Linked DNA regions of Homo sapiens. The protein of the gene in region 3 purifies or fractionates together with the protein of the main gene of each other region. This does not show direct contact. Each region holds a gene or a part of one and is shown on either strand. Other genes may lie near its edges.

Region 1 (3,658 bases), on a different chromosome or scaffold from region 3:
CCCTATTTGTGAAGTGAATCTTGATTTTTGCTAGGCCTCTTGGATTTTTTACTGTTGATAACCTGAAACACAAATTGTCTGGATTTGTCTTTAAATGTGGCAAAAGTCAGGGGTGACAGATGATGACATTTTCTCTCCAGCTAAAGCTGGGTGCAGGAGCTTGCTAGGTGAAGCAGACACTACTTCAGCAGTCAGTCCTGTAGTGACCTCTCAATCTTGTAAGAGAAGGAAAATGTTTTTTCCTAACTCTTTTTTTTTCAGGAGAGTAAAAAGAAAAAGGGAGAGACCAGTGTAATTTTTAGTCTTTTTTTTTTTTTTTTCACTGTAAAAAAGGAACTGGGAGCTATCACTACAAACAAACAAACTTGGCATTTAGCACTTCTGCATTTGTAACTTTTGTAACAGTGTCCCTTCTGTTTTCCTCTTCACAGGGCACACATAATTTTTATTGCAGCCTTAGGGGGCACTAACCATCCTGGTTTGTGCAGATTGACTGGTGTCCCAGCATATGGGGCTAAAACCGGGAAAATTCCAGGCAAACTGGGAGGAACTGGTTACCCTGTGTAACATAGAACATCCTCAACTATGTCATTAATATAATAATGTAATTAGTTCCTTGTATGTGGACATTAGGAGTTTTATATTTTTTGGTAAAGTGAGATAATTTTAAGTTTGGGAAAGAAAATTTTGTTAAATACAGATCTAAGGCATTTGACTCAAAGATAGCCATGAAACCTTTTTGAAAATTGATTTGATATTGACTGTTTTAGGGTGTTCTTTATGTCATATAGTTAAAGGCACTGTAGTCATTTTAAGTGTGTGGTCGTATCTTCAGCCTGGATCTCTACCCGAAATTTATTTTCAGAGTTATGAAGCTAGGATGGTAAGTTCTGTTGCATGTTTAAAGTGTCCACTATTCTTACCTGCATTTGTTAATGATGGCAGAACACTACTTTCATCTCGGAGGCTGCCTGCAGACAAACTGTTTCAGCAGGTGGCCTTTTTGGAGCTTCCTGCCTGGAGGCCTTCTGGTTTGGTGTTCCCTTGCCAAGTCCTAGTTCACACTTGAGTCACCTACCTTCTTGCCAAAGGCAGTGGCTGGCAGCGGTGGCAGTGGCAAGAGACTAGAAATCCTGTGTAACTTTGGGAGCAGGATTTCTAGCCCATAGTGTGGGGCCTTGGGACGTGTTACATATTTTACTGGGCTGCCCTTGTTCTTCCATGGCTCCCTAGAGCACTGGTGTTAAAGCAAACAGTATGCTGTAGTCCTGTCTTCAGCATAGAAGAAGGGAAAAGAAAGGCTTTATTTAGAACCTTTTCTGGTTGTTTCAGGACCCAATCACATGGTTTTGAGAGTGCACTTGAGGCTGGTGTTTCATGGCAGAGACCTAATAATGTCACACATTTATTGTGCTCTTATTGTATACTGGGCCTTTGCAGTGAATCATGTCTTAATCCTCATAGCCACACTAGGAGGTAGGTGGTGGTGTGATTTCTATTTTATGGATGAGAAAACAGGAATAGAGAGGCTAATTGACCGGTTTAGGGTCATACGCCCAGTAAGTGATCTAGCACACTGTCCTACCCTGGCAGTCTGATTGCACAGGTGGGGCTCTGACCACAAGGCTATACTTTTCATAGTTGAAAGGGCAGTGCAGCCATGGGATTAATGGGTGTCTGATCTTGTTTACAGAGAAGCCATTGGATGAACAGCGTTCCCTGAACTCCTTCTGCCTCTTGGGCCAGACCCATTTCTGTACATAGTAAGGAGCTGCTCTGAGGCCTCTGCCCCTGCCTGGCTTATACCTGGCTTTTCCCATTAGCCTCTCCATTTCCTCACCCCGGTGAATGATGTGTTGGTAGTTCAGTGATTTTTTTCATATATATATATATATATATATATAAAACGAACTGCGGTCATTATAGGAAAAGCAGAAAGCTAGATGAGCAAACCAAAAAATTTTAAAACCATCTGAAGCCTGTATACTCAAGAGATAACTATTCTTGACATTTTGATATGTTTCCTTCTAGTCTTCTGTCTGGGTAGCCAGTTAAAATTTTTAAACTTTTCGTGTGATAATATCATTACCTTTCACTTGTGCACATAGCTGATATCTGTGTTCTCTACACCAATGACTTTTCCAAATAAACTTATTCTTCTCTTACATATATGATTGGCTCTTTAGCCAACGCCAGCACATAAGCTCTAGCTCTGGATTAATGGAACTAACTTTTTTCTTTTTCTTTTCTTTCTTTCTTTCTTTTTTAAGATTTCAACTTTTTACTTCCTCTTTTGCTGTAAACAGAGAGCAAATACGAACTCAAAAAGGCACAAATTGTTTGTACCAGAAACAGAAATGAAAGATTCTTTAAAAAGATTTGTATTTCTACAAGATAATGTGAATTTTTATAGGCTAAAGTATAGCACGAAATAATTTAAAAACAGGCAGAGCTACAGAGATCTGATAATTTTGTGATTTCCAAATTTGTTTAAGCTATGACACTCCTTTTTTCCCCCGAAGAAATTTCATATTGAAGCTCAATATATAAAAAAGATTGGCTTGGACAGTGGTCCCTGAGTCCCTCTTGAAAACTGGTTGGGTTTAGTATTATTTGAAAGCCCCTTTGTATGAGAAAACTCCTGGTGATTGGTTAAGTGTTTTTTGTTGTTGTTTTTGTTTTTTTTCCTGACACATCATGTATGAAACAACATTTATAAATGTTTGTGAATGATTAGGAACTACACAGAACTAGGATGACTATATCATTTTTATCCGTTTGAGAATCATAGGTGATACTACTCAATATGAAGCCACAAATAGACGTGAGCCAGGACTGTCCTGGGTAAACCTGGATATGTGGTCATCATATATTCACATAGACTCCATGTTTGCTCACCACAGGCTTGACAGTGACAGTAAACTAGTTTGACTAGCAGACTACTCTGTCTCTTTTGAGTCAGGTCTACAGTGGTGCAGGTATTACAAAGATTGTTTTATGACCTTGTGCAGAGTTGGGAAACAGCTTCCATGTCACACATGAGTTCTGATCGGTCCAGGACTTGCAGGTGTAATGTGATAGAAACATTCTGACTCTTGCAGTCAAGGATCCGAGAAAGTGTGATTGATTACCAGTGTTTGCTATGGGTACACGGGAAGGGAGAAGTGACATATGTTGTACATTAGCCAACCCTTGGCAAGACATGTTAACCTCTGTAGGCTTCAGGTTTCTCTTTGTAAAATGAAGAGGTTGGACTGGATGCCTTTATGGTGCCTCAGCTCTGCCCTCTCCCTTCTGTGACTTGGTGCCTGTAATGGAGACCGATGCTCTTCACATGGTTTGTGTTATAGCATTTCTTACAAATGTGCCTATGAAGGGTGTATTTGCAGATGAGCTCTAATAAGGCTTTCCAGGTAACAAAGTCAAACAGCTTCAAGTTCCAGAGAAGGATTTTAACCCATGTCAATGACTTAGGACTAATTCCTATTCTCCACCCTACTTCAATTCATAGATAATCTAAGATTACCCATTTTATTTATTCTGTATTTTTATTTTTTTGGGACAGAGTCTCGCTCTGTTTCCCAGGCTGGAGTATAGTGGTGCAATCTTGGCTCATTGCAACCCCCGCCGACCCCCTCCTGGGGTTCAAGTGATTCTT
Region 2 (3,658 bases), on a different chromosome or scaffold from region 3:
TGAGTTACATGTGTGTATGTATTTGTCAAAACTCAGTCAATGTACACTTAAGATTTGTATATTTTCTTCTACATAAATTTTACCTCAAAAGGAAAAAAACTAAGCAAATATTGCACTCTAATGATACACATGCTGAAGTATTTAGGAGGAAATGAGCTCATCTCTACAACTTATTCTGAAATACATTTAATAATATGAATTGCTGCATGGATAGAGAGATGGACAGATGGACAGGTATGTGACAAAACATGTGTGGTTAAATATTAATGGTATTCCATTATATGGATATGCCAGTTTGTTTATCCATTCACCTGTTGGTGGATACTTGGACTGTTTCCCATTTGGGGCTATTAAAAATAAAGCTGCTATGCACATCTGTGTGCAAATCTTTGTATGAACATATGCTTTCATTTCTCTTGGGTAAACATGTAGAAGCACAATGGCTTGATAACATGGTTGATGTATGTTTAACTTTTTAAGAAATTGCCAAACTGTTTTCCCAAGTTGTTTAACATTTTACATCCCCAGGAGACATATTAACAGAGTTCCAGTTTTTGCACATCCTCACCACCACTTGCTATGGTCAGCAATAAAAAGGAATAAATTATTGATTGTACTACCACATGGATGAATCTCAAAATAATTATGCTGAAATAAGCCAGACTGAAAGAATACAAACTGTACAATCCCATTTATCCAAGTCTAGAAAACTCAAGCTAATATGCAGTAACAGAAAGCAAATCAGCAAAAACCTGGGGACAAGAAGGGTATAAGGGACAAGGAGGGTTAGAAGATACGGTTTACAAAAAGGCACAAGGAAACTTCTAGGTATGACAGATATGTTCATTATCATGTGATGATTGTTACCTGCATGCACATATATGCTAAAACTTATCAAATTGTAGACTTTAACGTGTATTTTACTGCATGTTAATTATACGTCAATAAAGCTGTTAATACATAATATTAATGACAGAATCTAGATAATGGGTATATGGAGAGGCACTGTAAAATCTCCTAACACTTTTTATAATAAAATGTTTCATAGTCTTTAAAGTTTTATTAAAGTATCTTAGAACATAAATATAAAAATAATACATAAGGAATTAGAATTGGTCATTAACACCAGACTGTAAGAATCATTTGTTTGGCTCCCTAGTGTATTCTGGGCACAGAAGAATGACTCCTTAAAAATCGAAAACTGTATCCTAACTGAATCTTCATCTTTTGTACTGCTTCTGGTATCATGGCGGTATCCAGCTAAGTGGCCACTAAACACATGATTCTATTATAAAGGGAAAACTGGGAGATTAACATTTCAAAAACAGAATACGTATGTTAGTTAATAGACAAGAAATCTGAACTTCTAATGTTACATAAAGATGTCAGGCATTATCAAAAAAAAATTACAAATTTGTCCAAGTATTGTGATTTCGGAGAAAACAAAATAGAGACAAAGGAGGCTAACTTAAGAAGGGGCTATGAAGTACAGGTACTTCCTGTGTTACAAATGATAATTCTATCACACAAGCCACTTTTACTACTGCTTTTGTCTATTTAAAATTCTAATACTTTTCCCCTTAATGTTCTCTTAAAATGTACCCAACTGTGCATCAAGTCCCCAGTGTCATTTGTTTAAAAAAATATTTTCATGTCCTACTCCAGATAAATAATTTATAATCTCTGGGGGCAGGTTCTGTATTCATAATAAGCACCTATGGCTGATTCTGATGCAGCCTAGCTCTTAAAGAAAATATGTGAAATGGCCGGACGCAGTGGCTCACACCTGTAATCCCAGCACTTTGGGAGGCCAAGGCAGGTGGATCACTTGAGGTCAGGCGTTCGAGACCAGCCTGGTTGACGTGGTGAAATGCCGTCCCTACTAAAAATACAAAAATTAGCCATGCATGATGGTGGGCACCTTTAATCCCAGCTACTCGGGAGGCTGAGGCAGGAGACTCACTTGAGGCCGTGAGACAGAGGTTGCAGTGAGCCGAGATCGCGTCACTGCACTCCCACCCGGGTGACAGAACGAGACTCCGTCTCAAAAAGAAAAGAAAAAGAAAAAGAAAATTGCTGGAGAAAGTTGGGAAGATAAATTTCAGATGAGTCTATGAAATATTACCACCTCTCTAACTAGATGATATATGGGAAGGGAGAATTATAAATAGAAGTGTATAAAAAGTATACCTTACCAACATCAAAATTTGCCAAGAGTCAGTCCTGGAATGAAGCTCAATTCCTTTTTCATCCCCTGTAAGACAGAGTCTTCTAGCAGTGAGTCTACTTACTGTATTGAACCCAGTACAGTAGCACTCTTCTGCTGCATTATAGTTAAACAGGTTTTTGGAAAAGTCCTCATTCATATATAAGAATGCTTCCATGGGAAAAATGCATTCTGATTTCCAAAGAATCCATCTCAGCAACAAATTTTCAGAGCACCATCCATTATTAGCAATGACTGAATACTAATTGATACTATTATAGTAACATGCTAATATTGAAATTTGCTGGATTATTTCAGAAGCCTAGCAAAAGCACACATTTACAACTACCAATAGGTCCTTCACGTTAGACCATAAAATATTATCTTAAAATTTTCCTATGCAGCATCCAGTTTCTTTTTTTTTTTTTTTTTTTTTGAGGCAGGGTCTCGCTCTGTTGGCCAGGCTAGAGGGCAATGGTGTGATCTCAGCTCACTGCAACCTATGCCTCCCAGCTTCAAGTGATTCTCCTGCCTCAGTCTCCTGAGTAGCTGGGATTACAGGCGAGCGCCACAGTACCCAGCTAATTTTTGTATCTTATTTTTTTCGTAGAGATGAGGTTTCACCACATTGGCCAGGCTGGTCTGAAGTGATCCACCCTCCCCAGTCTCCCAAAGTGCTGGGATTACAGGCATGAGCCACTATGCCTGGCCACCTAGTTTCTATTACAGAAATTTTCAAACAATGTTTTTAAAAAATCCTCCAAATTTATCAAATTACTACTTTTGAAATTCTCAAAGAATATTTTAAAAAAATACTCCAGCTATTATTTAAAGTTTCATTTATCAAAACATAACCAATTTCTATAAATAAAACACTGACATGTTATTTTATTTTATTTTGAGACAGAGTCTCGCTGTCTGTTGCCTAGGTTGGAATGCAGTGGCATGATCAGAGCTCACTGTAATCTCAAACTCCTATGCTCAAGCAATCTTCCCGCCTCAGCCTTCCAAAGTGCTGGGATTACAGGAATGAGCACCACACCTGGACAATGACTTGTTATTTTTTAAATTATTTGTTAAAGACTAAAGTTAGAGGGATCACATTACCTGATTTCTAGACTAACTACAAAGACACAGTTATCAAGACAGTGTAGTATTGGTGAAATGATAGACACACAGATTGAGACAGACTAAAGCCACACAATATTAAGTCTACTGATTTTTTTTTTACGAAATGCAAAGATAATTCAATAGAGAAAGGATCCTCTTTCTTAGCAAGTGGTGCTAAACAATTGGATATTTGCATCCACATGCAAACAAATGAACCTCAACCTTCAACACATATCACACACCTTATACAAAAAGAAATCCAAAACCTAAAACTACAAAACTTCCTTAAGAAAACACAGGAGAACATCTTTGACTTTGGGTTGGGAAAAGATTTCTTAGATA
Region 3 (3,658 bases):
CCAATATATTTATTAGTCTCTTGGGGAGAAGCCAGATTTATAGCATTCCATTTTGTTTTACTCACAATAAATGCATGAACATGTACTGTTTTATCAATCTTTTTTTTCGGGCGCATGGCCTGGACATTGACTCAGTGGACTCTCATTTATTAGTGAGAAAACTAATTGGAGGATATATGGAGATGCAGAACTCAGTAGAAAGCCAGAACATTTATTTGGATGGGATCTTATTCTAATCTGAGGTAGCATCATCAAGAAGAAATAAAGATCTACATAAGTTGCTCCAGGAGGGGGCTAAACCTGTCATTTGGCTATTGTGATTTCATCAAATTGATCACTGTAACTGTCATCTTTGTCTTGAAAAGCATCTGCCACTAACAAAGGCTGTTCCCCTTGGAAAACTATTAGCTCTCAGTGAATGAAAGTTATTCAGCACACTGAATAAATTGTCTCCTGCATGAGACAGCATTTGATAATTCACACTTTTATGGGGAATATTGAAAGGAAATTTCTACATGACATTAGGTCACATTCCTAATTACAGTTAGCATAAAGTCAAGCCCTTAATGTTTTAGTTTTTAGCCCCTAAGGAATATTTTTCAGAACAGGTATACAACATTTTTAGAAGAAAACCAAAAATTATTATTTTCTGCAATAATAAAATCTATTAAAGAAAAATGAAAACTTTGTGTATATTTTTTAGTCCAGTGGTATTTTCAAAAAGATCAAGGACAGTAAGGATCTATTTTCCATCTATATTTTATATACATATAGAATAGCACAGTGTTGGACCTATTTAAAACTAGCTAGGTGTCTTTCATGGTCTATAACCAGACAGGTTGAACTTCAAATTTATTTTTAATAGAGGGCTATCAAAAATGCATATGTAGATTGTACCCTTATTAATTTTTTATTTATTTGGCATGGGATTATATTCATTATTATTCATCCCAAAGTAAGAAGTATATAAAAATCATCTGTGAATATTTCTGACATTAATAATAATTGTAAAGTAGTAAGCTTTGTGCTGCTCATCAATTAATGCAGACCATGGCATTGAGCATAATAGTATTTAACAAACTGTATGCTTTCCAAAAATGCTGTGTGGTTTTTCAGTTGGAGCAGCTTTTGATGTTTATCTTCAAGAGTTCCAACGGGACTCAAACCTTTGGAGCCCCATTGAATTATTTTCAGCTACTGTCACTATGACCAGCTAACATGACACCTAACCTCATCTGGTTATACAATAGCTCTAGTGGCTGGCAAGTAAGCCAGCTGATTGTCTAAGTTTTAGTTTGAGGTTTCAGTTTGTTCCTTTGTAAGTAAAATGTATCACCCTGTGATTTCAGTGATCCAAGGAGCAACTGGCAACTGTAGAGTATTATATCACTGTTCCTATGGAAACATGTAAAATGGATTATAAAATATCTGAAATGTGTATTTTATTTGGTTCACTTTATTGTGAATATCTGATGCTACTTTAATGCTCCCTTTCTGATTATACTCTGGTTGAATTGTCTTCTGTTTAAGTTAAATCTTTAGTTTGCTCATGTATTGTTTTCTTATGATATACTTTTGCTTCTATATATTTTCAATAATAGTAGGTTCTTCTCAATTTATTGTATATTTTAAAAATGTATAGACAATTACTGTGCGCAGGAAGGGGTATATCCGGTCCTCCATGCCAAAGCACTCTTTCACCATGCTGGGAAACTTTCTAGAGAATGAGTAGAATGTACAGTGAAGATCAAGTTCCTTCCTCTAACTTTTGTTTCATTTTCTCTCCACAGGAACTTTTTACCCCTGAATGCAAGTTTAAAGAATCTGTTTTTGAAAATTATTATGTAATCTACTCATCCATGTTGTACAGACAACAGGAATCTGGTAGAGCCTGGTTTTTGGGATTAAATAAGGAAGGGCAAGCTATGAAAGGGAACAGAGTAAAGAAAACCAAACCAGCAGCTCATTTTCTACCCAAGCCATTGGAAGGTGAGTATTATGCATGCATTATTATTACATAGACTTATTACATATTTTATTTTTCAAATTGATAGGTCTACCATGGCTCTAAGAAACCTTCACAAAGTGCTGGAAATGTCATTTATTTTGATCTAGGTGATGGTTGCACAGGTGCCTACTTAAGTTATTGATTTAGAATTTGTGCCCCTTATACACTTTACTATATTTGTGTATGTATGTGTACCAGGAAAAATTTCTTCTCTGCCACCTCCAAAGGCTCAAATCCTCACTGCTACAACCACTCTAACCCTTAGATAATTTAAATTAATTAAGTTAAAACAATTTTAAATCTGTAATGATACAAATCTGCGATGATAAGTATATTAGAAAAAGATAATAAGTATATTAGAAAAAATAAGTTTTGAGCGTGGAATCAAAAGTATTTTCCATTTTGATATTATCTAGGTGAAAGTAATTACCTACTTGTGGATTATTATAATTACAGAAAAATAAGAGATAATAGCTTGACTCTTAAAGAACTTGCTGATATTACACATCTGCTTTCAAATTGTGTAATTCTTCACTGTATACATTTGTAGCATTACTTCTTTTACTAAAATAATTTATCCACATTCATTTGTGTGCAGGAAGGGGTATATCCAGTCATCCATGCCGGATGAATGGAAATTTCACATTTACTCCAATCAGATACCCAAAGAGCAGGCTACAAAGTTTTTTTAATTAATCAACAACATCTGCACCTCTCTCATTAATGATTCTGCCAAAAGTGTCATTTACTTTTATCTATGTAACATTTGAGAATTACAAAAATATTTGATTTTAGGATATTCACATGTGTTTCTATTCAAGTTCTTTTGTTTACTCTTTTGCAGAAGATCAGATCTACAATAACTCAGTAAATATTTTAAGCTAGCTTGGACAGCTCAATTTTCTTTTTGTGTTTTATTCCTACAGGAAAGGCTTAGCCATCACGAGAAAATGCATATTGTTTTCATAATGCATATTCTCTATATTGAAATAAAATAATTTAAAAATTTGAACAGTCAATTCTTCATCATCTGTGAGTGTATAATTTTCAATTTGCCTAAATTCAGAAAATCGCTCTTGTTGGCTAATACTACTTCTGTAATTTCAATGATGTTGACTTAGTGTCACTCTTAATTATATTTTTCTGTAGAACAATTTATTGAAACCCAAACAGTTAGCTACCAGGGCCTATACAGGAAAAGACAGATTATTCCAGAGTCTGAAATATGAGTGAATTATTCTCAGTATATGGTGGATCATAAGGATGATTAGAGTAGAAAGAAGTTAGAGGATTTCCCTGTTCCTCCCAAAAAAAACACATCCATGATACACTTTCATTGTTTTAAATAAATTTTGATAACATTGGACTCACCTATATTTAAATGCAAATAAAAAATTAAAAAATAAGCCCACAGAAGCTCTAATAAGACCATTGTTTATTTGCCACCGTGCTTTATCTCTTTTCACTCATTTTATGTTTTGTAAATAGTTAAGAATTGACTAGATTTTTAGAACCTTACCCTTTAGCTGCATAAATGTAACAAAACCCAAAAGGGCTGTTATGTCATTTAACCGAGGTAAAATTTGGGAACCAGTTATTTTGCATATCTCATAGAAAATATCTGAGACAACAATGATGTGGTATAGAATG

What was found.
Region 1: the proteins of FGF14 (region 3) and ANKRD44 purify together in Homo sapiens (affinity purification with mass spectrometry; one large-scale study listed by BioGRID and IntAct). This does not show direct contact.
Region 2: the proteins of FGF14 (region 3) and VPS13A purify together in Homo sapiens (affinity purification with mass spectrometry; one large-scale study listed by BioGRID and IntAct). This does not show direct contact.

The regions. Positions count from the first base shown.
Region 1 is NC_000002.12:197,304,214-197,307,871, reverse strand, and holds part of ANKRD44 (serine/threonine-protein phosphatase 6 regulatory ankyrin repeat subunit B), read left to right. Parts: intron 1-3,658. UniProt on the Homo sapiens protein: Putative regulatory subunit of protein phosphatase 6 (PP6) that may be involved in the recognition of phosphoprotein substrates.
Region 2 is NC_000009.12:77,180,500-77,184,157, reverse strand, and holds part of VPS13A (intermembrane lipid transfer protein VPS13A), read right to left. Parts: intron 1-3,658. UniProt on the Homo sapiens protein: Mediates the transfer of lipids between membranes at organelle contact sites. Binds phospholipids. Required for the formation or stabilization of ER-mitochondria contact sites which enable transfer of lipids between the ER and mitochondria.
Region 3 is NC_000013.11:101,724,943-101,728,600, reverse strand, and holds part of FGF14 (fibroblast growth factor 14), read left to right. Parts: intron 1-1,790; coding exon 1,791-1,989; intron 1,990-3,658. UniProt on the Homo sapiens protein: Probably involved in nervous system development and function.